7 separate regions of the Homo sapiens genome follow, and regions 2, 3, 4, 5, 6 and 7 are each linked to region 1. Evidence: fine-mapped QTL for protein levels in blood plasma. A gene starts in region 1. Each other region holds a variant in brackets. All regions are shown on one strand. Distances are between the middles of the regions.

Region 1 (4,081 bases):
CAAGCGATCCTCCTGCCTCAGCCTCCCAAAGTGCTGGGATTATGGGTATAAGATGACTTCTTATCCTGTCTTTCATTTTTCCACTGTTACATGAATTAAGGAACGCTTTTTGTAAGGACTAGTAAGCATTTTCTGAGTAAGATAGGAGATGTGTAAAGAAAAATGAAAACAGAAATGGTCATAGAGGATGTCTTGGGAAGGTGTTTCAGTAGTTTAAAAACACACACACAAGAAGCTTTTATGAATGGGATAATAGGATTGTGGAAACTGGTGAAGTTGATCCTATTTCTCACACTTTGGCAATGCATCTCTTTGTTGTAGGAAATATTCTTTTTTTTTTTTTTTTGGCAGCGATAGATAAGCAGGAAGGATTTTTTAACTCTGTTCATCTAAATTTTCCTGATAAGAACCCCAACAGAGCCGCTATCCAAGGGTTCACCTACCTCCTCGTTGACTATTGACCCCCAGGGGTATCCAGTCTATAGCAAAGGAAGAGAAAAGAGATGTGAGTGACTGCAGCTCTATACCTCGTAACCCTTTTATGAGACAAATCAGAAAATCATGGAGAAATGGTTATACTTTATCTTTGTGACTTATTCCTATATAGCTCAATATAAAATTACTGAGACCATTAGTGCTATGAACAAAACCAATAGGAATAGAAAGACTTCAGAAAGACAAGTTCCTTCACTGCTGTGCATTTGTTTGGTAAAAAGAAAAAAAAGACAAGTTCCTGAGAACAAAGCCCTGCTGCCCTCTTACCCTCATTCCTGGCCAGGAATGAAGTCCAGCTCCACTGAGAGGCCTGGCAGCCCTTCTAGCCCCACGGCTTCCCCGCTAGCTATGCTAGTGAACAAGACAGAAGAATTATTTTTCTCAATCTGTATCGGAAGAAGGAGGGAAAAAAATAGAGTAGGACATCTTTACAGCCTAAAGTTCACTTTCTGTGGCCAGTCTTCTAGCCAGATTCTGGGAAATCTGTGAAGATCACTTTTCTCTTGTGTGTCAGTATGGCATATATTTTTTGCATGCATGTGAGTATACCTGCATGCATGATGGTAATAGTGTATGTATTCCCACTGTTCTTCTTCAAGATTTACATTTGGTCCAGTTTCTTTTTTTCTTTTTTCCTTTTTTTTTTTAATGGAGATGAGGTTAACTCATCTCACTATGTTGCCCAGGTTGGTCTCAGTGATCCTCTCCACTCAGTCTCCCAAAGTGCTAGGAGTATAGGTGTGAGCCCACCATGCCCAGCCCAGGTCCAGTTTCTTTCTAGGTAGTCCCTCCTCTATGTTTGTGTATGCATTTGTATATCAGCTTCTTTTTTGCTTTGCAATTTGTTTACTCATATGTGACCCTCTTTGGGTGGTTAATATGCATTTGTGTGTATCTTAGTTGCACCTTAGTTTCATAATTCTTGGGAGGCCTTTCCCCTAGTCTGAAGTCTAGTCACATTCCTGAACTTTTTTTCTTAACACAAAATCTGTTCTTCTAATAGGAATTCCAGAGCTCAATACCAAGCATCTCTACTGCTATTCCTCTTCGACCTCATTCCATCCCATCTCCTGCCACACACGTGTATAGCTGAGGAGCTGAGGGTTTAGGGAGCAAAGAATAAAGGACTCACCAGAGGTGATGATGAATGCAGCAAGAAACAGCAGCACCTTGGGTCCCAAGAGCGACATATCTATAGGGGTGGTGGGCATAGCAGAGAATGTGATGCTCAGAGGCACATCAGCATTTCAGTGCCAGGGAAAGATGCCTCTGAGGTCCCTGTCTCTTTGTCTTCCCAGAACTTTCTTCATTTTCCCTTATGACTCAAACCCTTTCTCTCTTTTCTTACCTTTCACCCAACATTCATTTCTCCCTCAAATCTATTCCTTGGTCACTTACCATTATTCTTGCTTTTATTATTCTCTGCTACCAAGTCAGAGGAAATTTTACATTCTACATGGTCCGTACTTGGCCCTACCCTTTGGCCTCTTTCACCCCTGATGTGGAATCTTCCTTTCTCATATGCGTGACTTTTTCATATCATCTGCTCATCTTGGCGTCTCCTTCATCAGAATTCCACGGTTATTTGGGAGGTCTGCTCAAGACTAAGTTCAGTGACATTCCCCATTGCCCCCTCCAGCCCTTTCACACACACACAGACATACACACATTCCCTCTGTCTCTTTAGGGTTTCAGGTAATCAAATAACTCACTGTCTATGGTGTTCTGCTCTTTCCACCGAGTCCTTTGGCTGCTGAATGTGTCTCTCTCCTCTTACGCTGTTCCTACTTTGGCTGGCGAATAAGATGAACAGAGCCACTCCCTGGAAAGGACTTCAGATTTGGCCTCCGCTGAAACAATGAGATGAGGGAGAGCAAGAAAGCCAGGCTAGGCGTAGAATGTGTGTTACAATGAGGCTGGAATGAGAAGGGAGATGGGAATTTGCAGTTGCTCACACCCTCATTCCAAATGTTATGACTACACTGGTGAGAGCTCTTGCTGCTCCCTGGAAGTGTTGGCCCCAGCTCATGTATTGCCTTTCTTCCATTAGCCTATTTTCCCTCCTCTCACGATCTGGTCCCAGCTCCCCTTTGTTCCTTGGGTTCTTTCTTACCGAAAAGTTCCGTCTCCTCCTTGGTGTGTTTTAATGCACATTATAGATGCTGTTTCTCTCTCTCTGGCTATCTTCTTCTTCTTTGTTTTTTGTTTTTTTTTTTTAAGACAGAGTTTTGCTCCTGTCACCCAGGCTGGAGTGCAATGATGTGATCTTGGCTCACTGCAACCTCCGCCTCCTGAGTTCAAGCAATTATCCTGCCTCAGCCTCCTTATATTCCATATTTGAATCATTCCTTCATCCTTCTTTCTCACTTTCTTTTTCAATATTCGTCTCTTCAGCACTAACAAATTTCTTTTTATTCCTGTATTTCTTTTTCATCTCTGCCTCTTTCTTGACCTACACATTTAGACTCTTCTTGTTTTTTTTCCCCTTGGAATATCCTATGTATTCTCACAACCAAGCGAACACAGATACCTTATGAGTTTTGTCCAAGAGGAAGGCTGGCTACCTTAGGGTTATAAAAAGTTGAGGAACTTTTCAGAACTCTCCAAATCATTTTCAAATGTAGAGAAGCTCTGTGAAAGGGGTGCCAGCCTTACTTTGTCTTTTGGCTTTGTTTGAGCTTAACTAAGAATCTGGGTTTCTGGGCTCTTAAGGATAAAATGCAATCAGATGCCCAAAGAAAATTGAAAGGCAAGGTTATTATGCTTGCCTCATTTTCTACCAATATTTTTCCTTAGATCATATAATGTGTAGATAACACTTTCTCTGATCCAGGATTTTTTCTTTTTTTTAAGATAGGGTCTTGCTCTGTCACCCAGGCTGGAGTACAGTGGCATGATCACAGTTCACTGCAGGCTTGACCTGGGCTCAAGTGATCCTCCTGCCTCAGCCTCCTAAGTCGCTGGGACTACAGGTGCATGCCACTATGCCAGGCGAATTTAGATGTATTTTTTTGTAGAGACAGGATTTTGCTATGTTGCTCAGCCTTGATTCAGGAATTTTAAAGGCTTTGTATTTCTTCTTATTCACAGAGACTCTAGTGGTTCAACCACTAAAACATTCCCGCTTTGGATTCAAGAGCAAACTTGAATTACAGAAACTCAAGTCTGAGGAATGGTGGACCTTGTATGCCATAGAAATATGTAAGTTTCAGGTTTCCTGTTGGCTCCCCTTTAGTCTACATTATATATCTCCCTGATGAAATAAATTAGAGAAGAGTACAGGTAGACAGAGAGCAGATAGTATTAATAAATTACATACTAGAAGAAAATAAAAGGGGGTATGATGGAAGGAAGGAAAGAAGGAAAGAAGGAAGGAAGGAGTCTAGTTGAGAGGAAAAAAGAGCAGTGGACACAGAAATAAGCAAATCGCACTTTGTAAGCACCTCTGGGACCTCCGAGGGAGCTGTAAGTGCTACATCTCTAAGATACATGGAATCTGGTCAGTCCGCAGAACAAGCTGAGTGCTACGCCCAGCTCTTCCTGATCTTCCTGCCCCAGAACTTGCTCTTCTTCCATCTGCTCCCCA
Region 2 (4,081 bases), 1.0 Mb after region 1:
GAGCCACCCTTCTCTTAGGGGCATCTTGGCAGTGGGTCAGATGCTGAGATTCTGGGGAGAGGGCTGTGGATACCAGGCATTTTTTTGGGGGAGAGAAAAATCTCTTCCTAAAGCACTTGAAGGACCAAAACCCCCAGAGAGGAGAGAGGGCCAAAGAAATGAGAAAAATTTTTCTCTCAAGCAATTTTCAAATTATTAAATTTCACAGGAAAGGAGGTTAGGAAGAACTATGTGAAAAACAGACTTGAACTTTTGGCAATCACATGTTGTTCAGGAGACAAAACCAAATTCAACTTCCAAGAAAGAGAAGCAGCTTTGATAAAAAGCAGGTTCTCAGATGGAATTACTAGAAGGCTTTATCATAGGTCCTAGGACAAACTAGAAATGATGAAATAGTAAAGAAAAAGATATATAAAATCTTACAGAAACTGGAACTCAGTCCTAATGCAACTTCATTTCTATTTGATAAAGGCAATAGCTGTCCAATCTGGAACTTATTTCTTACAGGTAAGGGGGGCTACTGTATAGAATTCAAAAGCAGGGAAAATATGTTGTCAGAGTTAAGATAGAGATTGTATTTGGGGTAATGAGCGTTGCAGGACATGAGTAGGGCACATAGCGTGTTGGTATTGTTTTACGTGGTTTTAAGATATACTTCATCTAGGCACTTGTTACATGTTATATTTTTAATGAATGTGTTTAGTTGTATGCTTATGATTTGTGCACATTACTATAAATTATATTTTAGTAAAAGGTGCCCTTACTGGCATTTATATACAAGAAATCAACACATCTGACAAGAAGCTCTTGCTGCTAAAGAGCCTCTGTGCTCCTGGATCATGCCAGAGGGAGCACAGAAGCTGCACACCGTTCAAGCCCATTTTTGAAAAGTTGTTGTAGCAGCCATAGCAGCAAATTCCCAAAATATCTTGAAGAAATTGAAAACAAGATATTTTTTGAATGAGCGTAAACTCTTGGGAATGAATTTTAATTTGAGATTAAAATTGCTGTTGTCTTTACTTACCTAACATTCATTTCCTCTGAGAGCCAACTCCTTCCTTTCAATAAATTCTTATTTTCTATCATAATATTGCTTTGTACCGCACAAAATACAATTATAATTTTTAATAGTCAAAGAAATTTTAAGTTATCAAACATTAGTTTCTTTCGTAACCAAAATACTGTTAGAGAAGTAGCTTCAACTTTTTAAAATTCTTACAAACACCAGTTTATTCTGTTGTGATGAGCTGATTTTTGAAACAATTTATGCTTCATTTGTTCCTCTAGCTATATTTAACTTAAAGGCTTGACATTTTGAGTTACTGGGGCGGTTACACACTTACACGTTTTAGTCGTTGGGCTTTTTTTTTGTTTTGTTTTGAATCATTCTTGGGGTTGAAAACGTAGAGACTGTGGTTTAGATCACTCATAGAAACTGGAGGCAAAATGCATGACAGTAACAATGTGGAGAAAGACATTACACCATCTGAATTGCCTGCAAACCCAGGTAAGAAGCTGGGCTCTACAGAGTAAGTGTGAGGACTGGAATGGGAAGGTAGTGGTAGTGATGGGCTCACACAGGAA[A/T]GGTGCTGATCTAGTAAAAAGTTTTCAAGGATAAGAGATGGAATGTGGGAGTCCATAAATTGGCTTATAATTTGTGTAAAACATGCATATATTTATATTCCCAGTTCTAACAACTAAGGAGAGGGAACAATGAGAGAAAGATGTAAGACAATGAGATAAGGTTAAGTTTAGGATTGAAAATAACAGTTAATTTCACTAAAAAAAAATCTATACAAACTCTAAAGTGTTACTCAGATACAAGATACCATCATTATTACATAGGTAGAAAACCTATCATGGAAGCTCTTAAGAGAGAAAAGGTAGAAAATAGTATGTAAAGGACATTTACAAATCAAAAAAGTAACAAAGGTTGAGTAGAAACTTAGTAGGGCATTCTAATGGAATTATGTTACATTGGATGCACTGGAAATATATATATATATAGCTTTATATGATGCTTTAGTAAGTGAAAAAAATGACTTTTGCCACAGTTAGGGAATATCAAGGTTTTATAACTTAGGACTTAAAAGTTTGGAGTTTTCTCCTCCCAACTTAAAAGGTAATCAATTTGGAGAAAAGGTAATTCAGAGGCAGAAAAAGATGAACTCTAAATGTTGTTAAATGACTTCATTTATTTCTTCATTCATTGGGTATTTTGAGCATTTTATACCAAATGCTTTAAACTGTTTGTCGGATAGTTCCAACATCTCTGTCATGTCCTCCTTGGCTTGTGTTTTCTTTCCCCATGGAAGTTGACATTTTCGTGGTTCTTCATATACTGTGTAATTTTGGATTGTAATTTGAACATTTTGAACAAATATTTAGTTAGACTGGATCTTATTTAAATTTTGGAGTATATTGATACTATTGTTTTAGCAAGCAATCACCCTGGTGAGATGAAGACAATCTGTGGGATCTGGTTCCAATGTCAGTTCCATTCTGAAAGCCTTTGTAGTGCTATTCAGACATGTGCATCAACCAGGGGTGAAATTGGGAACTGTGCAATGCTCTACTCATTAGTTCAGGTCTTAGCATCTTTAGTGTGCCAATTAGAACCATATCTAGGCATGCATAAGTTGAGGGGCAGGTGAATCCAGGAGTTTATGAATAATGTTCATGGGTCTCTTTCTAAAGTTTCTTCCTCTTCACCATCTGACCCGTACTTTCAGGTTCCCAGGGGCTTCTCCTTTCCATCCTCCAGCTAGAAATGCGGGCCTCCTTTTATTCTGATGAACCATATACTTCTGCAATTATAGCTGCATCTTTAAGCTCATGTGGCAGACGGACAGTGAGAAAGAAGAAAAAAAAAGCAAGAGGTTTGGCCCCACTCTCATGGAGCTACAGCTCAACTGAATGGAAAGGATTGACTTTAGATTTCTTTTCTTTTTTTGAGGTGGAGTCTCACTCTGTCCCCCAGGCTGGAGTGCAGTGGCGCGATCTCGGCTCACTGCAAGCCCCGCCTCCTGGGTTCACGCCATTCTGCCTCAGCCTCCTGAGTAGCTGGGACTACAGGCGCCCGCCACCACGCCCGGCTACTTTTTTGTATTTTTAGTAGAGACGGGGTTTCACCGTGTTAGCCAGGATGGTCTCGATCTCCTGACTTTGTGATCCGCCCGCCTCGGCCTCCCAAACTGCTGGGATTACAGGCGTGAGCCACCGCGCCCGGCCGAGGATTAACCTTTCTCAAGGTTTTGGCTATTGCATGTTGCTGTAGTTTCCCCTACCATCATCAGATTGCCTGAGGTTTGAGGCACATGAGAATGTAGACAAGAGGGGGAGAAAAAATAAACGTGGTATTTTCACACTCTATTTGAGATAGGAGTTTGCTTTTCTGTTCCTCAGACCATACCTCTAGTGCTTCTCCTGGAGCCCTCTCTTTATGCTGACAGAGGCTCAATTCCATGTTTCTGGCTGTATTAAGTTCGGGGCAGTGATACTAGAGGAGGGAAATTTAAATTCACCACTGGTTTGATGGCTCTTTAAATTTGGATATTCTTGTAAGATCTGCTGCTAGTATATCCTTTTTCCTTTTGCTCTTTTTTGTTTTGTTTAAAGACCATATTTTTAGAGCCATTTTGGGATCACAGCAAAATTGTGAGAAAGGTAGTTTTTTTTTTCATTTTCTCCTTGTTGCCACACATATATAGACTCTGTCTTAGTCTGTTTTGTGCTGCTATTACAGAATACCCAAGACTGGGTAATTTATAATGAACAAAATCTATTGGCTCATAGTTCTGGAGGCTGGAAAGTTCAAGACTGAGAAACACATCTTGCTCCATCATCCCATGGCAAAATTTGGAAGGGCAAGAGAGCACATGCATAAGAAAGAGAGAGAGCAAGAGGCACCAAACTTGCTTTTATAACAAATCCACTTTCGTGATAGTAAACCCACTCCCATTATAAGGACATTATGACCTGATTACCTCTTAAAGGACCTGCCTCTCAACACTATTGCATTGGGGATTAAGTATCTAACACATGAACTTTGGAGACACATTCAAACCATAGCAGTCTCTAA
Region 3 (4,081 bases), 960 kb after region 1:
CACTCTACTACCAGTCCTACCAGCACTGTGAGTCAGGGAAGACAGAAACCAGTTCCTCAGGCAGCCCTCAGACAAGCCAGAGCATTAGATGCATGGTCCACTTTTTTGTTTTCATCAGGAGAGAGAATCCGCTGTATGGGGTGGTTCCTCCCAGTTGCTTCACAGTATATTGCATAAAGGAGGGACATGAATGGGCGTGTCGAATGTCACAAATTTTTTCTATCCTTTTTCTGGGGGGGAATCCTTTCTTGGTTTTATAATGGGCTGGTGCTTCAGCTTCTCCAGTAGTCTCTAAAGTTGCCACAGCAATGGGCCTGTGGGGAAGAGAGTCCCATAATTTCCTATTCTGCTCTCTTGCTAATGTCATCCCTTCCTTTTTTCATTTTTAAGCCTAAAGTAGATTCTCTTAGCTCATGATTAACACTTGCTGACTTTTGTATCTTTACCTTCTTGCACAAAATTATCCTCTTAATCACTTCTTTTTGTGGCCACCTTCTGGGCTCTATTGTGGCTCTTCATTTTCAACAGTTACATTGTTTTTATTTTACTGTATTTTCCTGTCCACCCACCCCAGTGCCCACTGCTGACCTGGCAAAGTTCAATGTCAAAAATAGGTAATCTAGTCAAAAACTTGTCTTTATTGTTCCTCGAGCTGCTCAATTATTACCTCTACTATTACTACATTATAAATCTTAGGATCACATATACTCATTAATTCTTTGAATTTTTTAGCTTTCATATTATATTGTGTGTGTATGTGTGTGGGTGTTTTGACAATTCTCTCTCTATTTATATTTTCTCATGATAAGATATTCATAAATTCTGATATGCTTTGCTGTAAAGTGTAATTTGCATAATTAGATCATCAAATGGATTCACTAGCATAAATAGAAAAAAATTATAGGTCTGAATTTTCATGAGGGTTTTATGTATGTGTATATATATAGAGAGAGATAGAACATATATGTTTATAGGCACATTGTAATAATATATTATATATTACATATGTATATACAGTATATACACACATTAAAAATTGTATAACAAGAATCTGTTGTGATAGAAGAAAATTGCGCAGGTGATTGGTTGTTGCTCTTCATACTCTGTAACAAGCAAAATGATCAATCAATATGTTTCATGCCATGTATGGACAAGTGAAGCCTCTTCTTTGGTTGATATTTCTAACTAGTTTATACTTTTGCACCTTATAGGCTTTTGCAAGCATCTGTTTGAAGAGAATGGCTTACCTCAAATCAGTTGTTTTTGGTATGGCCATTGTAGATTCCTAGTAGTCACAGTCATGCTTCAGAACTTGAAGTTATACTTGAGTGCACTAAACCACAATTTTAATCCCCTAATTACATCATCAGACTTCTAGTCACTCTATTGACCTTTCTAAGATATTCCAACACTTTTCATTTACTTGATGAATGTTTCTTTAAGTGTGGTCCATGAACCACCTGAAATAATTTTTAGCACATTCTCCATTCTAGCTAACTGTACTTTGGGAAGAAAAAGGGGTTTATGTGGCAAGAATCTGCATTATTAACAAGTTTTCAAGTTATTCTTATATATACTATAGTTTGAGATCTTTATATGCACTAAAGCATTATATACTAAAGCTTGAGAATAATGCTATAAATATATTGAATTGTTCAATGCAAATGACCCAGGAGACACTTCCATAATTGTGGCAGACTCTGTGCATCCTAAAAATTTAGATAAGATGTATGGCAGAACCAAATACCCTAGTACCAGTAAAATGACTGTTAGTTATCAAATAGTCATATAGTTAAGAACATTTTCACTGAATCACTAAAGAGTGGATTGTGAAACTCACACACACTTACATCTCACTTCATAATTATCGGTGATCTTTAAGAAATAAGTGTGTGCTCTCATGATAGACACATAATGAAAATGTTCTTCGATGGATAAACACTTCCTGTCTTCTGAGTTCAAAGCCAGAAGACTGTTTCCACTGTCAAGTAATTTGAGCACCTGGTATAATTCTGCTCCAATAATAGGAAGTGACTTTTAGGAAATCTCAGATTTTGCTGTTTTTT[T/C]AACCTGTAATGGGAGAATGTCAGTCTTGGAGACACGTAAGCTCTTTTTTTTTTTAATTTTATATACTTATTTATTATACTTTAAGTTCTAGGGTACATGCGCACAATATGCAGTTTTGTTACATATGTATACATGTGCCATGTTGGTGTGCTGCACCTGTTTACTCATCATTTACATTAGGTATATCTCCTAATGCTATCCCTCCCTACTCCCCCCACCCCACAACAGGCCCCGGTGTATGATGTTCCCCACCCTGTGTCCAAGTGTTCTCATTGTTCAATTCCAACCTATGAGTGAGCACATGCGATGTTTGATTTTCTGTCCTTGCAATAGTTTGCTGAGAATGATGGTTTCCAGCTTCATCCATGTCCCTACAAAGGACATGAACTCATCCTTTTTTATGGCTGCATAGTATTCCAAGGTGAATATGTGCCACATTTTCTTAATCCGGTCTATCATTGATGGACATTTGGGTTGGTTCCAAGTCTTTGCTGTTGTGAATAGTGCCGCAATAAACATGCGTGTGCATGTGTCTTTATAGCAGCACGATTTATAATCCTTTGGGTATATGCTGAGTAATGGGATGGCATTCTAGTTCTAGATCCCTGAGGAATCGCCACACTGTCTTCCACAATGGTTGAACTAGTTTACAGTCCCACCAACAGTGTAAAAGTTGTTCCTATTTCTCCACATCCTCTCCAGCACCTGTTGTTTCCTGACTTTTTAATGATCGCCATTCTAACTGGCGTGACATGGTACCTCATTGTGGTTTTGATTTGCATTTCTCTGATGGCTAGTGATGATGAGCATTTTTTCATGTGTCTGTTGGCTGCATAAATGTCTTCCTTTGAGAACTGTCTGTTCATATCCTTTGCCCACTTTTTGATGGGGTTGTTTGATTTTTTCTTGTAAATTTGTTTAAGTTCTTTGTAGATTCTGGATATTAACCCTTTGTCAGATGGGTAGATTATAAAACTTTTCTCCCATTCTGTAGGTTGCCTGTTCACTCTGATGGTAGTTTCTTTTGCTGTGCAGAAGCTCTTTAGTTTAATTAGATCCCATTTGTCAATTTTGGCTTTTGTTGCCATTGCTTTTGGTGTTTTAGTCATGAAGTCCTTGCCCATGCCTATGTCCTGAATGGTATTGCCTAGGTTTTCTTCTAGGGATTTTATGGTTTTAGGTCTAACATTTAAGTCTTTAATCCATCTTGAATTAATTTTTGTATAAGGTGTAAGGAAGGGATCCAGTTTCAGCTTTCTATATATGGCTAGCCAGTTTTCCCAGCACCATTTATTAAATAGGCAACCATTTCTTGTTTTTGTCAGGTTTGTCAAAGATCAGATGGTTGTAGATGTGTGATATTATTTCTGAGGGCTCTGTTCTGTTCCATTGGTCCATATCTCTGTTTTGGTACCAGTGCCATGCTGTTTTGGTTACTGTTGCCTTGTAGTATTGTTTGAAGTCAGGTAGTGTGATGCCTCCAGCTTTGTTCTTTTGGGTTAGGATTGACTTGGCAATGCAGGCTCTTTCTTTGTTCCATATGGACTTTAAAGTAGTTTTTTCCAATTCTGTGAAGAAAGTCATTGGTAGCTTGATGGGGATGGCATTGAATCTATAAATTACCTTGGGCAGTATGGCCATTTTCACAATATTGATTCTTCCTATCCCTGAGCATGGAATGTTCTTCCATTTGTTTGCGTCCTCTTTTATTTCGTCGAGCAGTGGTTTGTAGTTCTCCTTGAAGAGGTCCTTCACATTCCTTGTAAGTTGGATTCCTGGGTATTTTATTCTCTTTGAAGCAATTTTGAATGGGAGTTCAATCATGATTTGGCTCTCTGTTTGTCTGTTATTGGTGTATAGGAATGCTTGTGATTTTTGCACATTGATTTTGTATGCTGAGACTTTGCTGAAGTTGCTTATCAGCTTAAGGAGATTTTGGGCTGAGACAATGGGCTTTTCTAAATATACAATCATGTTATCTGCAAACCAGTACAATTTGACTTCCTCTTTTCCT
Region 4 (4,000 bases), 16 kb before region 1:
AACCTTACTCTAAGTGATTGGACAAGTTGAAAAATAACACCAAATCATTATCAGCTATTAAAAAAAAATGAGGGTTTGAGGTAAAGTGAAGTTCGATTTGTCAACAGGAAGCTGTGGGCTCTGCACCTCTATTTATATAAACATTTGCTTTTTCCATCTTGGGTTCTGCCCAGAATTTGTCGTCTGACTGCTGCTTCTGGGTCTGCTTGACTGGTTTTTAGAGAAAAAAAGAAAGAAAGAAAGAAAGAAAGAAAACAAAACTGTGGCCACCTGTTCCTCTCCTTACCGCAGTCTTAACAAGTCACTTTCCCTGATGTTTGGTTGGTGAAAATGCTCAAAGATACAAGGGCTTCCGTTTTTATCAGAGTATTGCTTTATTAAGTAAGGCCTCCCTGAGCTGACAAAGCTACAAGGACAGTCCTGCCTCTCCTCCACTGTGCTCCTGATGTCTTTCTGTTTTACCCTAAGTTTCCAGATCCCCCAGGACCCCTTCCCCACTTCTCAAATTCCCTTTGAATTTGGAATTTGACAGTTTCCATCTTTTAGCTTCCTGGCTCCCCAACCCTGGTGTCAGCCTGTTGTCACTCTCTCATCTGGCTATCCCCTGGTCTGGTGCCATCTTTGTTCCCACTTCTTTTAGGATTGTTTTCCTTCTTCATTGTGTTACAGCTGCTTCAGTACAAAAGGAAGAGGGATCTTAGAGGTTGTTTGTGCCTTCTCACCAGGTGTAAAGTGGTTAGTTAAACATCTAACTTTGGCCACAAGTACCCTGAAGCAGAGAAGGGAGGAGCTTGTGTCTAGCAACATATACTGCTGTATATGTCATCAAAGTAAGACTCAGAAATTGGGAAACCAGCTGCGGTTTGCACTCTCTGCCATGAGTCAAAACAATACTGAGTGTGCATAGAACTGTATTTAGTGAGTAGAAGACACACTCAAATTTCCAGAATGTGTTCATTTGAGGAGAAAGTAGAATTTTCTTGAATCGTAAGCATGGAATATGGAAAAAGCCTCAGAGTAGAATCAACTCAATTAGAGAAGGGAAAATAAAAGTGAATCTTTATGAATAGGTAGATGAGGCTGCTATCTATTCAGGATACCAGGAGGGCATTCAATATCTACTGATATTTTTACCAAATTCTTTAATTCTAACATTAAAGATCCATTATTTTGGTTTAAAAAATGGCTTTTCATTGAAAGCCATTGCTTAGCAAGGTTGTCATTTGGGCTCACCAGGAAAAAAAATATATTAACACCTTAATGAGTAAAAACTTTCTTCTGAATCTTCTTTTATTTTTTGAGACGGAATTTCACTGTTGTTGCCCAGGCTGGAGTGCAGTGGCATGATCTTGGCTCATTGCAACCTCCACCTCCCTGATTCAAGCGATTCTCTTGCCTCAGCCTCCCGAGTAGCTGGGATTACAGGCACCCGCCACCATGCCTGGGTAATTTTTTTGTATCTTTCTTAGAGACAGGGTTTTATCATGTTGGCCAGGCTGGTCTCAAACTCCTGACCTCAGGTGATCCGCCCACCTCAGCCTCCAAAAGTGCTGGGATTACAGGCGTGAGCCACCACGCCCGGCTGATACACATTTTTTAAAGTGGAATAAAAGTTCATAAATTCAGGCCTTTTTCGTAAACATAGAAGAGAAAAAGAACCAGAACAAAAGACATTTTATTTTGAGAAATAAATTGGAAAAAAATATTTTAAAATGTTTAATTTGCAATATACATAATACTGGAATTGAAATGCTGTCTGATGGAAATGTTGCAATGTGGAGTAGGAGGGTCAAGTTCGTGAAGATATTCTTAAAATTAATCTTGGAAACTCTGTGCCTATGAGGTTTCTCTAAAGTGGCTAAAATATGCATTTAATATGTTGTCTAAATGAGTACATTTAATTCTAGAGACTGTAAGGAGTAGAGATTATATGCTTTGGGGCTTTTTGTAGCATTTTTTTAAAATCAGTTGTACAGATCCCATTAAACGAAATTGTTTCTTAACAGCAAGAATCTGATCATTTAACTAGTTTTCTCAGCAATATAAAAGGAATACAACCTCCACTGTCATATATAACTTGTTGTCTCCTAGCTCCTATTTGAATTCCATTGGCTTTTATAGAAAGTTATTGAGTTAGTCAGACAGAAGGATTCATGATATATAATTTGTCATTTGTTATAATGGGATTTTCTTCTATTCCATTGTGGACTGCTACCCTCACCTAGGATAAAGCAGATATGGTTGCTATGAATTAGACTGTATCTAAGCTTCAAGAAATATGAATAATGCATTTAAATCCAGAGAATCATAGAATTAAAGGAAATCTTAGAACTAAGAATATATATAATATATATATATATTTCTTAAGATGGACTTTTGCTTTTGTCACCCAGGCTGGAGTGCAATGGCGCCATCTCGGCTCACTGCAACCTCTGCCTCCCAGGTTCAATTGATTCTCCTGCCTCAGCCTCCCGAGTAGCTGGGATTACAGGCACGTGCCACCACGCCCAGCTAATTTTTGTATTTTTAGTAGAGATGGGGTTTCACCATGTTGGCCAGGCTCGTCTCAAATTTCTGACCTCAAGTGATCCACCCGCCTCAGCTTCCCAAAGTGCTCAGATTACAGGCATGAGCCACTGCGCCCAGCAGTACTAAGATAAATTTAACCTTCTCATTTTAAAGATGAGGAAATTAAACCAGGACCTAATGAAGGAAAATGGCTTATCCAAGGCTACGTGGTTACTGCTAGAGCCAGGATAAGAATGTGGGTTGTCTGAATATTGTGTTTCTTTCACTCTTTCGTATTAACTATTAGGCAAACTTTCTGTCTGCCTATTAAAATTCAAGTCTGAATGCCCTTCTTAGGCCCCAATCAGGATATCCAAAAGCCACTTGCACAATAATTCGACCGTGCACTTGTTAAGTTGTGAAGATGAACGAAGTAGCAACTCAAGGAAACGTCAACCAATGGTATGATTTCACATTAAGTTGTCTAATTTGCTTTGTGGTGGTGGGTTCATCCCGGTACTACCCATAAACGAATCAGTAAATGAGACTTAGTTTCCAACCTTACTTCCCGACTAGACAACTGCATGAAAAATTGGATAGCGAATTATGAGTCCAAGTTCTATAGCTGGCATAGTCCTCATGCTTTAGCCCCAGCCTCTGAGCTTAGCAGAAGACATTTTGGGTCCTTATATATTGCTAGTAGGATTGTATAATTCTTGACTGTGTTGCAGAATCTTACAGGACTACAAAACTTACCATGATGTGTCTTATAAGGAAGACTTGCCAGGCAAATTTTCGGGCAAGCCAGCAAAATAGTTAAAGTAAGAGTAAAGAGGAACACGTGAATGATGGGGAGTTGGTCTAGGAAAATATTGTGAGGAAAATAAATGAAATTCTATGGTTAGCCCAAATAGACAAAGATAGCTTCTTCAACCCTAAGATCTATATCAGACAGATTCAATAGTAAAGATTATTAGCCTAAAGTTTAGTCTCCCTTGAAATTGTACATAGAATGTTTGTATATAAGCCATATAGTCATCATCTATTCACTGTGTCTATGATATTGAGAAGCAGCAAAATTATGCAATAATATAGACTTTGTATTTTAAGTGCTAGAAAATGAGATAAATGTTATCAGTTTGGGTGAAAAAGTAGAGAGTAGGGGTAAAAGCTGG[A/G]CATTGCAAAAGGATTGGTTTAAGAAATACTGTCTAAGGGTTAGCTGTCAATGGTTGGAGAAGAAGGAGATCCTCCTTCCTCTCACCCATACATTTTTTCTTCTTTCCTCTTTTTCAATGATCACAGACCATTGGGTCTCTGCAAATCCACATTTTCACAGGGAGGAAGTCGGAAGTAATTGGAGCGACGGAGTCTCCTAGGGGGCAGACCAGCCATCTGACGGCAAAGCTCATCTAGAAGAGAAGCAGAACATCATGGGAAGAGAATGCAGAAGATAACAAAGGCTCTTGTTTTAAGGGATAGAGAAGACTTTTCA
Region 5 (4,081 bases), 320 kb after region 1:
TTTTTTTTTTTGAGACAGAGTTTCGCTCTTGTTGCCCAGGCTGGAGTGTAATGGTGCAATCTCAGCTCACTGCAACCTCGGCCTCCTGGGTTCAAGCGATTCTCCTGCTTCAGCCTCCAGAGTACCTGAGATTACAGGCGCCTGCCACCACACCTAGCTAATTTTTGTATTTTTAGTAGAGACGGGGTTTCACCATGTTGGCCAGGCTGGTCTCGAACTGGTGAGCTCAGGTGATCCATGTGCCTTGGTCTCCTAAAGTGGTGGGATTACAGCCGTGAACCGCCGTGCCTGGCCCATTTTACCATTTTAAAGATGACATCTCATTGCTTTTCTCCTTTTTTGTTTCTGTTGAGAATTTAGCTATCATTCATGTGTTGTTTCCCATTATTAATGTGTTATTTATTTTCCTCTGGCTGTTTTCAGTATTTTCTTTTTATCTTTGGTTTTTATTAGTTTTAGATTATGTTCTTAGGAGTGATTTTCCTTCTGTTTATCTTGATGCGGATTCAGTGAGTTTCTTATACCTGTAGGTTGTATCCCAAATTTGGGGAATATTTGATCATTACTTTTTCAAATTCCTTTCCGATTTCATTATATGTCCCCTTTATTTTGGGGGACTACAGTTTCACTTTTGTTATACTATTTGGCATTGTTCATAGGTCACTGAGGTTCTGTTCATTTTTTTCTCCCATTTTTTCCCTCTATTCTTCATATTGGATTATTTTTAGCAATCTGTCTTCATGTTTACTGACCTTTTTATCTGCCCTCTTCTATTTGCTATTAATCTCATTCAGCTATTATTATTATTATTATTGAGATGGAGTCTCGCTCTGTCACCTAGGCTGGAGTGCCGTAGTGCAATCTCAGTTCACTGCAACCTCTGCCTCCTGGGTTCAAGTGATTCTCCTGCCTCAGCCTCCTGAGCAGCTGGGACTATAGGCATGTGCCGCCAGGCCAGGCTAATGTTTTATATTTTTAGTAGAGACAGGGTTTCACCATGTTGGCCAGGCTAATATTTTATGTTTTTAGTAGAGACAGGGTTTCACCATGTTGGCCAGGCTGGTCTTGAACTCCTGACCTCAAATTATCCACCTGCCCCCGCCTCCCAAAATGCTGGATTACAGCTGTGAGCCACCGTGCCTGGCCCTCATTCAGTTATTTTTAAAAATTATGAATGCTGTTCTGTTCTGGAATAGTCACTTGATTCTTTTTGGTAGTTTCTACTTCTCTGAGATTCTTCAAATTTTTATTCATTATGACTATATTTTCTTCTAAGTCTTTGAACGTATTTATGCAGATATTAAAGTCCTTGTTTGCTAGTTCCAGCATCTATGTTACATAAGTTTCTTTTCTACTTACTGACTTTTCTTTGATCCATGGCCCATATATTCTTATTTCTTTGGATTCTAATAATATTTTATTGTATGCTAGATATTAAATGTGATGCATTATGGCTAATCTGTGTTATGTATCCTCTTTTTTGAAGAAAAGTTTTATTGGGGAATAATTTCAGATTTACAGAAATGTTTTTAAGATAGCACAGAACATTTCTTTATACCTTTCACCCCATTTCCCCTAATGTTAGCATCTTAAAAAATCATGGCACATTTCTCAAATGTAAGAAATGAATATTGCTACATTGTTTGAATTTTACCAGTTTTCCACTAATGCTCTTTTTGCTGTTCCAAGATCCAATCCAGGATACCACATTACATCTAGTTGTTATATTTATTGTTTTCCTCTGGTCTATGACAGTTTCTCAGTGTTTTTTTTTTTTCGTGAACTTGATATATTTTAAGAGTATTGGTCAGATATTTAGTAGAGTACCACTCAATTTAGAATTATCTGATTTTTTTTTTGCATGTTTACATTGGATGTGTAGGGGAAAACTTTCTTCAGCTGTGTTTTTCTTCTGCTTTCACACCAGCACTACCACAATTATCAACACAGAAGAAGACTTGTGTGACCAAATGTGGTAGGGGTGTTCCCCACATACCAATTAGCAGACACCAACTGGGTATCCTCTAATTCAATTCCGACATTATCTACCTGGAGATAGTGTTAGATCTTACATTTCAGGGATTCAATATGCAAGATCACCCCCTACACCCACAGACACCAGTCACAAGTCTGGGCCTCTGGAACATCTGACCAATAAGCTTCAAGTTGGGATTTCCACAACTTCCCCTTTGAGTTCAGTTAATTTGCTGGAGCAGCTCACAGAACTCAGGGAAACCCTTATGTTTATCAGTTTATTATAAAGTATATTACAAAAGATACAGATGAAGAGAACTGTAGGGCAGGGTATGGGGAAAGGGGTGTGGAGCTTCCATGCCCTCTCTGGGAAGGCTGCTCTCCAGGAATCTCCACAGGTTCAGTCATCTGGAAGC[A/G]TTCTGACACAGTTCTCTTGGGTTTTTATGGAAGCTTCAGGACATCAGCATTCTTGCTGCTGACCCCCTCCCCTTGTCACCCCAGTAAAGGGCAGGACCCTCTCTGGGGAAGGTTTTAAGACCCACAATCAGAAAGGCAGGGGAAAATTAGAGTCCTGCCTTGAGGCAGATGAAAGGAGGGCAGAAGAAGGCCAGAGGCCTTCCCCTTGGGGCCTGACACACTCAACATTATAAGAAAGGACTGTAACAGGGACCATAGGAGTTAGGAGCCAGAAACTGTGGATGAAAACCAATATATACATATGTATAATACCACCCTGGGGTTATGGATTTTGGGGAACAAACCTTACTGGTTAGGTGCTTTTATCATTGCATCATATTAGGGGGTACATGATATCAACAAGACTCATCACTGGTGGTTCACGCAGTGAACCCTGTTCATGTGGTTGAGGTGGTATTTGCCAAGATTCTTTAATGAATAGTTACTATTTCCTTTTATCCATAGTGTACTCTTTGGAAGTGAGTCTCTTATCCCTGACTACCCTCAAAGGGAGGAGAGTTAAATTCCACATCCTGAATGGGGAGTATCTACATATATTATTTGGTATTTTCTGTAAGCAAGATTTGTCACTTCTCACCTATTTATTTATTTAAATCAGTATGGATTTATATAGTTTTTCCCCTTGTGTTATAATTCAACACTGTCATTTATTTTGTTGTTCATATTGTTCCATTGGGAGCTTTTCCAGGTTGGTTTCTGTGTCCTGATATGCTCCCATCTTTTTTTTTTTAACTTGCTTATTTTTTAACATTAAAAGACTGGAAGATCCTCCAAGCTTATTTTGTACTTTCCCTGTCCTGGCCCTAGAATTAGCCATTTCTTCAAAGAGCCCCTGATTCCTATGTTGCCTTCTGATGTGGTTTGGATCTGCATCCCCACCCAAATCTGACGTTGAATTGTAATCTCCAGTGTTGGAGATGGGGCCTGGTGGGAGGTGATTGGATCACGCGGATGGTTTTTCATGAATGGTTTAGTACCATACCCCTAGAGCTGTTCTCCTGATAGAGTTCCTCACAAGACCTGGTTGTTTAAAAGTGTGTAACACCTCCCCGCGTCTCTCTTGCTCCTGCTCTGGCCATGTAAGACATTTCCCTTTGCCTTCCACCATGACTAAGTTTCCTGAGGCCTGCCCAGAAGCAGATGCCACTATGCTTCCTGTACATCTTGCAGAACTGTGAGCCAATTAAACCTCTTTTCTTTATCAATTATTTGGCCTCAGGTATTTCTTTATAGCAGTGCAAGAATGGACTAATACACCTTCCTTTTTTTAAAAAATGATCTTAATTATTTTAAAGCATACAATTCAGTAGTGTTAAGTATTATTATGGACTGAATGTTTGTCTCCCCCAGATTCACATATTGAAGCCCTAATCCTCAGTGTGACTGTATTTGGAGATGGAGTGTTTAAGGAAGTAATTAAGGTTAAATCAGGTTACAAGGGTGGGGCCCTGATCTGATAGGATTAATGTTCTTGTAAGAAGAGAGACCAGAGCCCTCTCTCTTTCTTCCCTTGTGCACACACTGAGGAAAAGCCACTTGAGGATATAGTGAGAAGTCTGCAACCCACAGGGGAAGCACTCTCCAAACACCAACTCTGCTGGCATCTTGATCTTAGACTTTCAGTCTGTGG
Region 6 (4,081 bases), 290 kb after region 1:
CAATTTATTTTGACAAATGCATCATAACTGTTATCTGTAATCAAAAAATTTAGAAGATTTTCATCATCCAAGAAAATTTCCTCATGCTCCTATCCAGTCATCTTCTCCTAGTCCTAGAGGCAACTATTGCTCTGATTTTTTTTTTTTTTTTTTTTTTTTTTTTTTTTTTTTTGAGATAGAGTCTCTATCACTCAGGCTGGAGTGCGATGGTGCAAACATGGCTCACTGCAGCTTCGACCTCCCAGGCTCAAATGATCCTCCCAGCTAGCCTGTGGAGTAGGTGGGACCACAGGAGTGTGCTACCATGCTAGGATAATTTTTTTTTATTTTTTGTAGAGATGAGGTTTCCTTATTTTCCCCGAGCTGGTCTTGAATTCCTGGGTTTGAGTAATCTTTCCACCTCAGCCTCCCGAAGTGCTGAGATTACAGGCATGAGCCATCAAGCCTGGTCTTTTGAATTTTTCTTTTTTTTAAATTATAGATTAATTTTGCCTATTTTAGAACTTAGTATAAATGGACAGATACTGATAGTGGTGGGAAGCAGACAAATTCCTAGGTAGATACGGGCGGGTCCCTGGTGAAAACCAACCTTCGAGTCAAAGACCGCCGGAAGCCTGAAAACTCACCTGCCAGTTCTGGGTAGAATCTAAGACCCAAGTGAGAACTCCCGCAATGCCTTTTAGCCAATCAAATGGTGCTTTTTCCAGGCTGCCTATGGACCAATCAGCACACACTCCCCCATTCTGAGCCCATAAAAACTCCCGGACTCAGCTACACAGTGGGACTACCACCTTTGGGTCCCCTCTCTGCTGGGAGCTGTTCTGTTGCTGAATAAACGTCCTCTCTGCCTTGGTTACTCTGCAATTGTCAGTGTAACCTCATTCTTCTTGGACGCAGGACAAGAACTCGGGACCTGCCGAACAGCGGGTGCAAAAGAACAGCAGGTGAAAGGCTGTAGCCCTCCTGCCCTCTCCTGGCACCAGGCGGCCACCCCACGTTATGGGAAGTGGTGGTGGCGCCAGGCCAGCCCAGGAGCCGTGGGCTGGTGGGACTGAACAAGTTGGGACATGCCCCCGTTCGGCAAAGCTTGTGGACAGCAGGAATGAATGAACTGTAACACAAACGAGCTGAGACTCTTCGGGGTGCAGACCTCGGGATTCCCCAAGCCAGAGCTGTAACATGCTGTAACACCCCCCACCGCATTTTTTTTTCTTTTTCTTTTGAGACAGAGTCTCACTCTATCACCCAGACTGGAGTGCAGTGGTGTGATCTTGGCTCACTGCAACTTACTGCCTCCCAGGTTCAAGTGATTCTCCTGCCTCAGCCTCCTGAGTAACTGAGATTACAGGTGCCTGCCACGACTTCCGGCTAATTTGTTGTATTTTTAGTAGAGATGGGGTTTCGCCACGTTGGCCCGGCTGGTCTCGAACTCCTGACCTCACGTAATTCTCCCACCTCAGGCTCCCAAAGTGTGGGGATTACCGGCATGAGCCACTGCACCTGACCTTTGAAGTTCCGCAGTTGCTGGTGTCTTTTGAGTTTTTTGGACGCCACTGCGTTCCCTTCGTTC[A/G]TATGCCAGTGCCCAAGGCAGAAGCTGCTTGCAGTATACCTGATCCAGCCACAGCTTCACATGAAGCTGGTGCCTGGAGGTGATGCCCTGCTGTAGCAGCTAGCATACCTGGCTTGCCCTTGGTGGGTGTGAGATCTGGGCCAGTACCGCTAGCCAAGAGCCAAGCACAGCCTGCCAAGCCCAGTGGGTGGAGCCAGCCCAGTGGTCACGAGTGAATCTTGATCTTGAGCAGGGCCCCCCCGGCCGTGGAGGTCTCTGGCTGTGGAACACCACCAAAAAATCCTGTGTCAATAGCATGTTCCTTTTGCATTTGTTTGATTTCTTTCACTGTAATATCTGTGAACTTGTATGTATCAGTAGTAGGTTTTGTTTTGTGTTTTGGTGGGGTAGTATTACATTTTATGAATACAGTAGCCCTCCCTTCTCCTCAGGGGACATGTTCCAAGGCCCCTGCTGTAGACAGCATCTAACCCAGTTGCCTTCAATGAGAATATGTTTCTGTTCATATCTTCCACCCACAAATTTAATGCCTTTTCTGTCTTAACGAAGCACTTACCGTGGCCCATGGCAGTAACTTCTGCAGTTTGAGTTGCAACAGCAAAACTAGCACACATTCTTTTCCCTTCTTCACAATTTAACAGATAGAGGATTTATTCTTACCATAGATGTTAGCAACCTCGGAATACTTGTTTTGTTTTTTGTTTGTTTGTTTGTTTTGTTTTGTTTTTTTGTTTTTTGTTTTTTTTTAGTAAGTCAAGAACCTTCACCTTTTTATTTAAAGGAAGCACTTTACACTTCTCTTTGGCATGTCTGCATAGCCAGCATTACTACTCTTGCGCTTTGTGGCCATTATTAAGTAAAATAAGAGTTACTTGCACTGCAGTACTGTGGCAGTCAATCTGATAACTGAGAGGGACACTAACGGGCAGGGAGTGTCCCCAGCGTGTTTCCACTGGATGAAGGGGTGATTTATGTCCCAGGTGGGATGGAGCAGGACAGTGCAAGATTTTATCACAGTACTCAGAACAGCATGCAATGTAAAACTTATGAGTAGTTTATTTCTGGAATTTTTCATCTGATATTTTCAGACCTCGGTTGACTACTGGTAACTGAAATTGTAGAAAGCACACCTGCAGATAAGGGTGGGGAACTATCGTATTTCTCATCTTATTCATTCCCTTTTGATGGGCGTTTGGGTTCTATCTGTATTTTCTTCTAAGAAGCCTTATAGTTTTATGTTTATGTCTGTAATTTATTTTTAAATTTTTTTAGAGACAGGCTCTTGCTATAGTACCCAGGCTGGTCTCAAACTCCTGGCCTCAAGCTCTTCTCCCAACATGGCCTCCCAAAGTGTTGGGATTACAAGCATGAACCAGTGTGCCCGGTCTGTGATCTATTTTGAGTTAATTTTTGTGTATAGTTGAGGTAGCACTGAGGTTCCTTTTTTTCCCCATATGGATATATAATGACTTCCTATAACATTGTTTGACTATTTTTCCTCTCTTAATTGCGTCAGAGCTTTGTTGAGAATCAGTTGATTGTATAAATGTAGTTCTGTTTCTGGACTTAATTCTGTTTAGTTGATATCTTTATTATTAAGCTAATAACACACTCCTGATTCTTCTAGTTTTATATTAAGTCTTGAAGAAAGGTATTATAAGTCTTTCTTCTCTTTTCAAGATTGTTTTGGCTATTCTAGGTCCTTTGCATTTCCATATACACTTTAAAAGCAACCTGTCAATTTCTGTTAAAAAATCCTGCTGGGGCAAGGCATAGTGGCTCACGTGTGTAATCTCAGCACTTTGGGAGGCTGAGATGGGAGGATCACTTGGGCTCAGGATTTCAAACCAGCTTGGGCAACATGGTGAGACTCTGTCTCTACAAAAAAACCTAAGAATTAGCTGAGCGTGGTGGCTTGTGCCTATGGTCCCAGCTACTTGGGAGGCTAAAGTGGGAGGATCGCTTGAGCCCAGGAGGTCAAGGCTTCAGAGAGCCGTGGTTGCACCACTGCACTCCAGCCTGGACAACAGAGTGATACCCTGTATCAAAAAAAAAAAAAAATCCTGCTGGGGTTACAATTGGGGTTGATATGAATCTGTAGATAAATTTGGGGAAAATTGACATCTTAATGTTGAGTCTTATAATTCATGAATATGAAACCACCTTTGCAGAACTATAAGTAATGAGAGAAGTCTAATATGGTTGACTCCATCTTGCTTCCAACCTCTCAAGTTAAATTGTTTTTTTGTCCATTCTAATGTGGGGGCCAAGATAACTATAAGAGGAATTTAGTTTACAGTTAAAACCACATTCATAAAACAAAGTTAAAATTATGGTAGGGGCTTGAACTTTGCTGAAGAATAGACATAGTTGAACAATGACCCGCCATTACTTAGCTTGTTTTTGTTATATAAGTTGCTTACTGCCCCAGAGTCTTGTATCTGGGGTCGCAAGATTTAGAGCTTCTCCAACTTCTCCTGTAGGTAATATTACTATTGTAAAACCTGAAGA
Region 7 (4,081 bases), 920 kb after region 1:
GAGAAAATTTTCACAACCTACTCATCTGACAAAGGGCTAATATCCAGAATCTACAATGAACTCAAACAAATTTACAAGAAAAAAACAACCCCATCAAAAAGTGGGCGAAGGACATGAACAGACACTTCTCAAAAGAAGACATTTATGCAGCCAAAAAACACATGAAAAAATGCTCATCATCACTGGCCATCAGAGAAATGCAAATCAAAACCACAATGAGATACCATCTCACACCAGTTAGAATGGTAATCATTAAAAAGTCAGGAAACAACAGGTGCTGGAGAGGATGTGGAGAAATAGGAACACTTTTACACTGTTGTTGGGACTGTAAACTAGTTCAACCATTGTGGAAGTCAGTGTGGCAATTCCTCAGGGATCTAGAACTGGAAATACCGTTTGACCCAGCCATCCCATTACTGGGTATATGCCCAAAGGACTATAAATCATGCTGCTATAAAGACACATGCACACGTATGTTTATTGCGGCATTATTCACAATAGCAAAGACTTGGAACCAACCCAAATGTCCAACAATGATAGACTGGATTAAGAAAATGTGGCACATATACACCATGGAATACTATGCAGCCATAAAAAATGATGAGTTCATGTCCTTTGTAGGGACATGGATGAAATTGGAAAACATCATTCTCAGTAAACTATCGCAAGAACAAAAAACCAAACACCGCATATTCTCACTCATAGGTGGGAATTGAACAATGAGATCACATGGACACAGGAAGGGGAATATCACACTCTGGGGACTGTTGTGGGGTGGGGGGAGGGGGGAGGGATAGCATTGGGAGATATACCTAATGCTAGATGACGAGTTAGTGGGTGCAGTGCACCAGCATGGCAGATATATACATATGTAACTAACCTGCACAATGTGCACATGTACCCTAAAACTTAAAGTATAATAAAAAAAAAATTACTGACTGTGGTAAAAGGTTGGGAAAGATGTCTTTCAAGATGTTTCCTAAAACAAAATTCTGTAATAATTAAAGTGACACTTACCATGTTCTAGACACTTCTAAGTGCTTTACATGTGAACCTCAGTTGAAGCTCACTATCAGTCCTAAGTGGTAATTATGATTGCTATTGTACCCATTTTACAAATGAGGAAACTGAAGCATAGAGGGATTAGTTAAGTTGTTCAAGGTCAGGTAGCTAATAAGTGGCAGATTCCGGATGAGAACTCATCAGGCTGGCTTCAGGGACTGTACTTCTTAACCAGTAAGAATGTTGGTTTCTTAGGTTGTATATGTAATGTGGCTTGCCCTAATATTCAAATATTTGTATTCTAATTCCGAAATTTTCAATGCCTCTGTGATTCTATATATTACTTTACCTCTCAAGCCTGTTTTCCTTAGTTGAGTTAGTTGCCAAAAGTTAAATTAGTCTCTGAGTTCATTACCAGTTCTGGCTTCTTAGAATTTAGTGAACATAAGAGTCTATTATTAAAAAGTCAAAAACTAACAGATGCTGGTGAGGTTGCAGAGAAAAGGGAACACTTATGCACTGTTGGCAGGAATGTAAATTAGTTCAACCATTGTGGAAAGCAGTATGACGTAGCTAAAAACAGAGCTACCATTCGACCCAGCAATTTCATTACTGGGTATATTCCCAGAGGAATATAAATCATTCTACCATAAAGACACATGCACACGAATGTTCATTGCAGCACTATTTACAATAGCAGAGACATGAAATTAACCTAAATTTCCATTAACGACAGATGGGATAAATAAAATGTGGTACATATACACCATGGAATACAATGCAGCCATAAGAAAGAATGAGATCATGTCTTTTGTAGGAACATGATCATGTCTTTTGTAGGAGGCCATTATCCTTAGGAAACTAACGCAGGAACGGAAAACCAAATACAGCATGTTCTCACCTGTAAGTGGGAGCTAAATGATAAGAACTCATGGACACAAAGGGAACAACAGACACTGGAGCCTCTTTAAGGGTAGAGTGTGGGAGGAGGAAGAAGAACAGAAAAAACAGCTATTGAGTACCAGGCTTAAGATCTGGATGATGAAATAATCTGTACAATAAACCCCTGTGACATGAGTTTACTTATATAACAAACCTGCACATGCACCCCTGAACCTAAAATTAAAGTTAAAAAAAAAAAGCAAAGGAAAAAAATAGTCTATGCCCATGGTTGAACTCAGGTTGCAAGTAGAAAGTGGTTCTTTGGGGTATGAAAAGAAAACTGTAATTTAAACTTTTTTTTCTCATAAGCTATTTGTATTGAAATAGATTACAGATTGTAAGTGGGCAAGAACTATGTTATGTATTGTTGTACCTAACTGTGGTCATACCTTGCAACCCACTGAGTGACCAAAATGCACCTTCTCGATTGTAAATATTTAGTATTAACATGATGATAATAAATAGATGGACTAATCAGTTCAC[G/A]AAAACTTGCTGTTTGGCCAAAATCACTTAATACTAATGTGAGAAAGGACGTAAAAATAACCTTGCATTCTGTGATTTCTGATTCTTCCAAGATATCACAGCCACAGCTCTGTCTTGAGAGAGTCAAGAATGAGGGCTATTTATTTTGTGATGTTACAGGTCTGCCCACATCAGTGCCCACCAGGAAAACTGCTGCTTGTGTTATCAAGAATTTAAAGGTAAGAAACCATATCTATGTAGGTAAATTTTTAGACTCTATTCAGGAGATTGTTTGTAGGGGGTTAGGTTAAGTATTATTATATTTTGTAGAGCTTGATAATAGTTATCTAGATAATCCCTGGAGAATTAAACAAAGCGGTGTTGAAGATGTCCTGCTTATGTATTGTGTTAAAATTCAGTTTATACTTGGTTTGAAGTGGGAGTGAAAAATTTAGCCTGAAGACATGTATATTTAATTTGTTGTTCAAACAAGCTTGGGGTTTGTAGGTTTTGATTATTTTTGAATATTGAGTAAACTCGGTAATACAGTGTATTCTTTCCATTCAAATCCTGAGAAAATATATTGGCACTGCCAAATGCAGGCATGCTCAATGAGTAATGAAACTAATTTGGTGTTCGTATTGGTCAGGATCCATTTAGAAGACAGAAATCATACCAGCAATCTAACAGGAAAATTTATATAAAGAATTATCAGCATGGTTGAACCTGGGAATTAATATAAATGATTGAACAGTTTTGGTTCATTATTTACAGAGAAACATGAATATGTATACAAGATACTAATTAGTATCTGTTATTTAAGGACATCTTAATACTTTACTAGGATGACAAATTCAATATCATATAGACATTGCTCTATTTAACATACTTATCAGTTAATTATTATATTTTTAAGGCTTTAGTTAAATTTATCATCTATTTGCATATATATATCTTTATATGTGAAAACGCATGCATAGAAACATGTTAAATTCTTTACTGTAAATGTTCACATAAATAGTACACATTAGTAAAATTAGATTTGTCCTTTTTTTCTGTAAAATGAGCAAATTTTCTGTGTTCAGATAACAGATACCCATTTTTTTCTAGCAATCTATTCTGATAACTTTGCTCTTGATGTATTTTAACAAACAACTTGTCTTTGGGAATGTTAAAAGTTCCTGATAATCTTTGCCTTTGTGGTGGTATATCTATAAAACACAGTATTGTGTTTATATCTTGTTTCTTTTGACCATACTCAATTTTGCCTTTCTGAAATTTAGGCCCCAAATTAGAAAGAATAGAATGGTTGTGAAGTCTTTTTATGTACAATCAAGTTTTCAGGTTTCTTGGAAAGGCCCCCAAGTAACATATTTTTTCCTTTGTTTTATTCAAAGAAATGAGGAAAGAATAATAAAAATAATCTACTTTGTTTGTATTCAAAATTTGATCATTTTACAGCCACTGTGAGAATACTTTTGTTTAACAAGTATAAGTCAAAATTTAAAAACTGGTTAATCTAGAAGAAAGTGCTGTCTTCTTAGGTTGATTACAAATGTTGAAAGATACAATGTAAATGTGTTTCAATGATTGTATACTTTTCAAATTAAAAGATGCATACTCATATTTAAGCATAGACTGGTATAATTGTTTACAAAAATATTTTGCTTTTTAG

Direction of the effects. Positions count from the first base shown, and alleles are read on the strand shown. Strength reflects both the effect of a copy and how common the allele is. Not every link is listed here.
For the plasma level of the protein whose gene starts at base 2,407 in region 1, allele T in region 2 goes with a lower level than allele A (weak association).
For the plasma level of the protein whose gene starts at base 2,407 in region 1, allele C in region 3 goes with a lower level than allele T (weak association).
In carriers of allele G in region 5, the plasma level of the protein whose gene starts at base 2,407 in region 1 tends to be lower than with A alone (moderate association).
As copies of G replace A in region 6, the plasma level of the protein whose gene starts at base 2,407 in region 1 goes down (weak association).
As copies of G replace A in region 7, the plasma level of the protein whose gene starts at base 2,407 in region 1 goes up (moderate association).

Evidence for each region. PIP is the posterior inclusion probability: the model's chance that the variant is causal. Protein levels are from antibody-based Olink assays in UK Biobank. Linkage for the fine-mapping came from a reference panel and not from the study's own genotypes, which makes the PIPs less certain.
Region 2: its variant is fine-mapped to the plasma level of the MFAP5 protein (UK Biobank, PIP above 0.99).
Region 3: its variant is fine-mapped to the plasma level of the MFAP5 protein (UK Biobank, PIP above 0.99).
Region 4: its variant is fine-mapped to the plasma level of the MFAP5 protein (UK Biobank, PIP above 0.99).
Region 5: its variant is fine-mapped to the plasma level of the MFAP5 protein (UK Biobank, PIP above 0.99).
Region 6: its variant is fine-mapped to the plasma level of the MFAP5 protein (UK Biobank, PIP above 0.99).
Region 7: its variant is fine-mapped to the plasma level of the MFAP5 protein (UK Biobank, PIP above 0.99).

What each region holds. Positions count from the first base shown.
Region 1 is chr12:8,660,420-8,664,500 of GRCh38, forward strand. MFAP5 (microfibril associated protein 5) reads right to left here and starts at 2,407. Exons shown (of 10, transcript NM_003480.4): 1 at 2,208-2,407; 2 at 1,628-1,687; 3 at 444-479. The coding sequence starts at 1,685.
Region 2 is chr12:9,668,289-9,672,369 of GRCh38, forward strand. CLEC2D (C-type lectin domain family 2 member D) reads left to right here and starts at 1,425. Exons shown (of 5, transcript NM_013269.6): 1 at 1,425-1,507. The coding sequence starts at 1,447. The variant A/T (reference allele first, on the strand shown) is at 1,585.
Region 3 is chr12:9,625,162-9,629,242 of GRCh38, forward strand. It overlaps the pseudogene LOC374443. Among named protein-coding and RNA genes, the nearest start is that of KLRB1, 19 kb to the left of the region's middle. The variant T/C (reference allele first, on the strand shown) is at 2,067.
Region 4 is chr12:8,644,287-8,648,286 of GRCh38, forward strand. It overlaps MFAP5 (microfibril associated protein 5), which reads right to left. Exons shown (of 10, transcript NM_003480.4): 10 at 1,657-3,917. The coding sequence ends at 3,805. Among named protein-coding and RNA genes, the nearest start is that of MFAP5, 17 kb to the right of the region's middle. RefSeq lists enhancers at 433-955, 597-656, 3,591-4,000. The variant A/G (reference allele first, on the strand shown) is at 3,684.
Region 5 is chr12:8,983,407-8,987,487 of GRCh38, forward strand. It overlaps a transcript of KLRG1 not described here. Among named protein-coding and RNA genes, the nearest start is that of KLRG1, 4.1 kb to the right of the region's middle. The variant A/G (reference allele first, on the strand shown) is at 2,391.
Region 6 is chr12:8,955,241-8,959,321 of GRCh38, forward strand. It overlaps a transcript of KLRG1 not described here. Among named protein-coding and RNA genes, the nearest start is that of M6PR, 7.6 kb to the left of the region's middle. RefSeq lists an enhancer at 589-1,788. The variant A/G (reference allele first, on the strand shown) is at 1,571.
Region 7 is chr12:9,581,520-9,585,600 of GRCh38, forward strand. No RefSeq gene overlaps it. Among named protein-coding and RNA genes, the nearest start is that of KLRB1, 24 kb to the right of the region's middle. The variant G/A (reference allele first, on the strand shown) is at 2,428.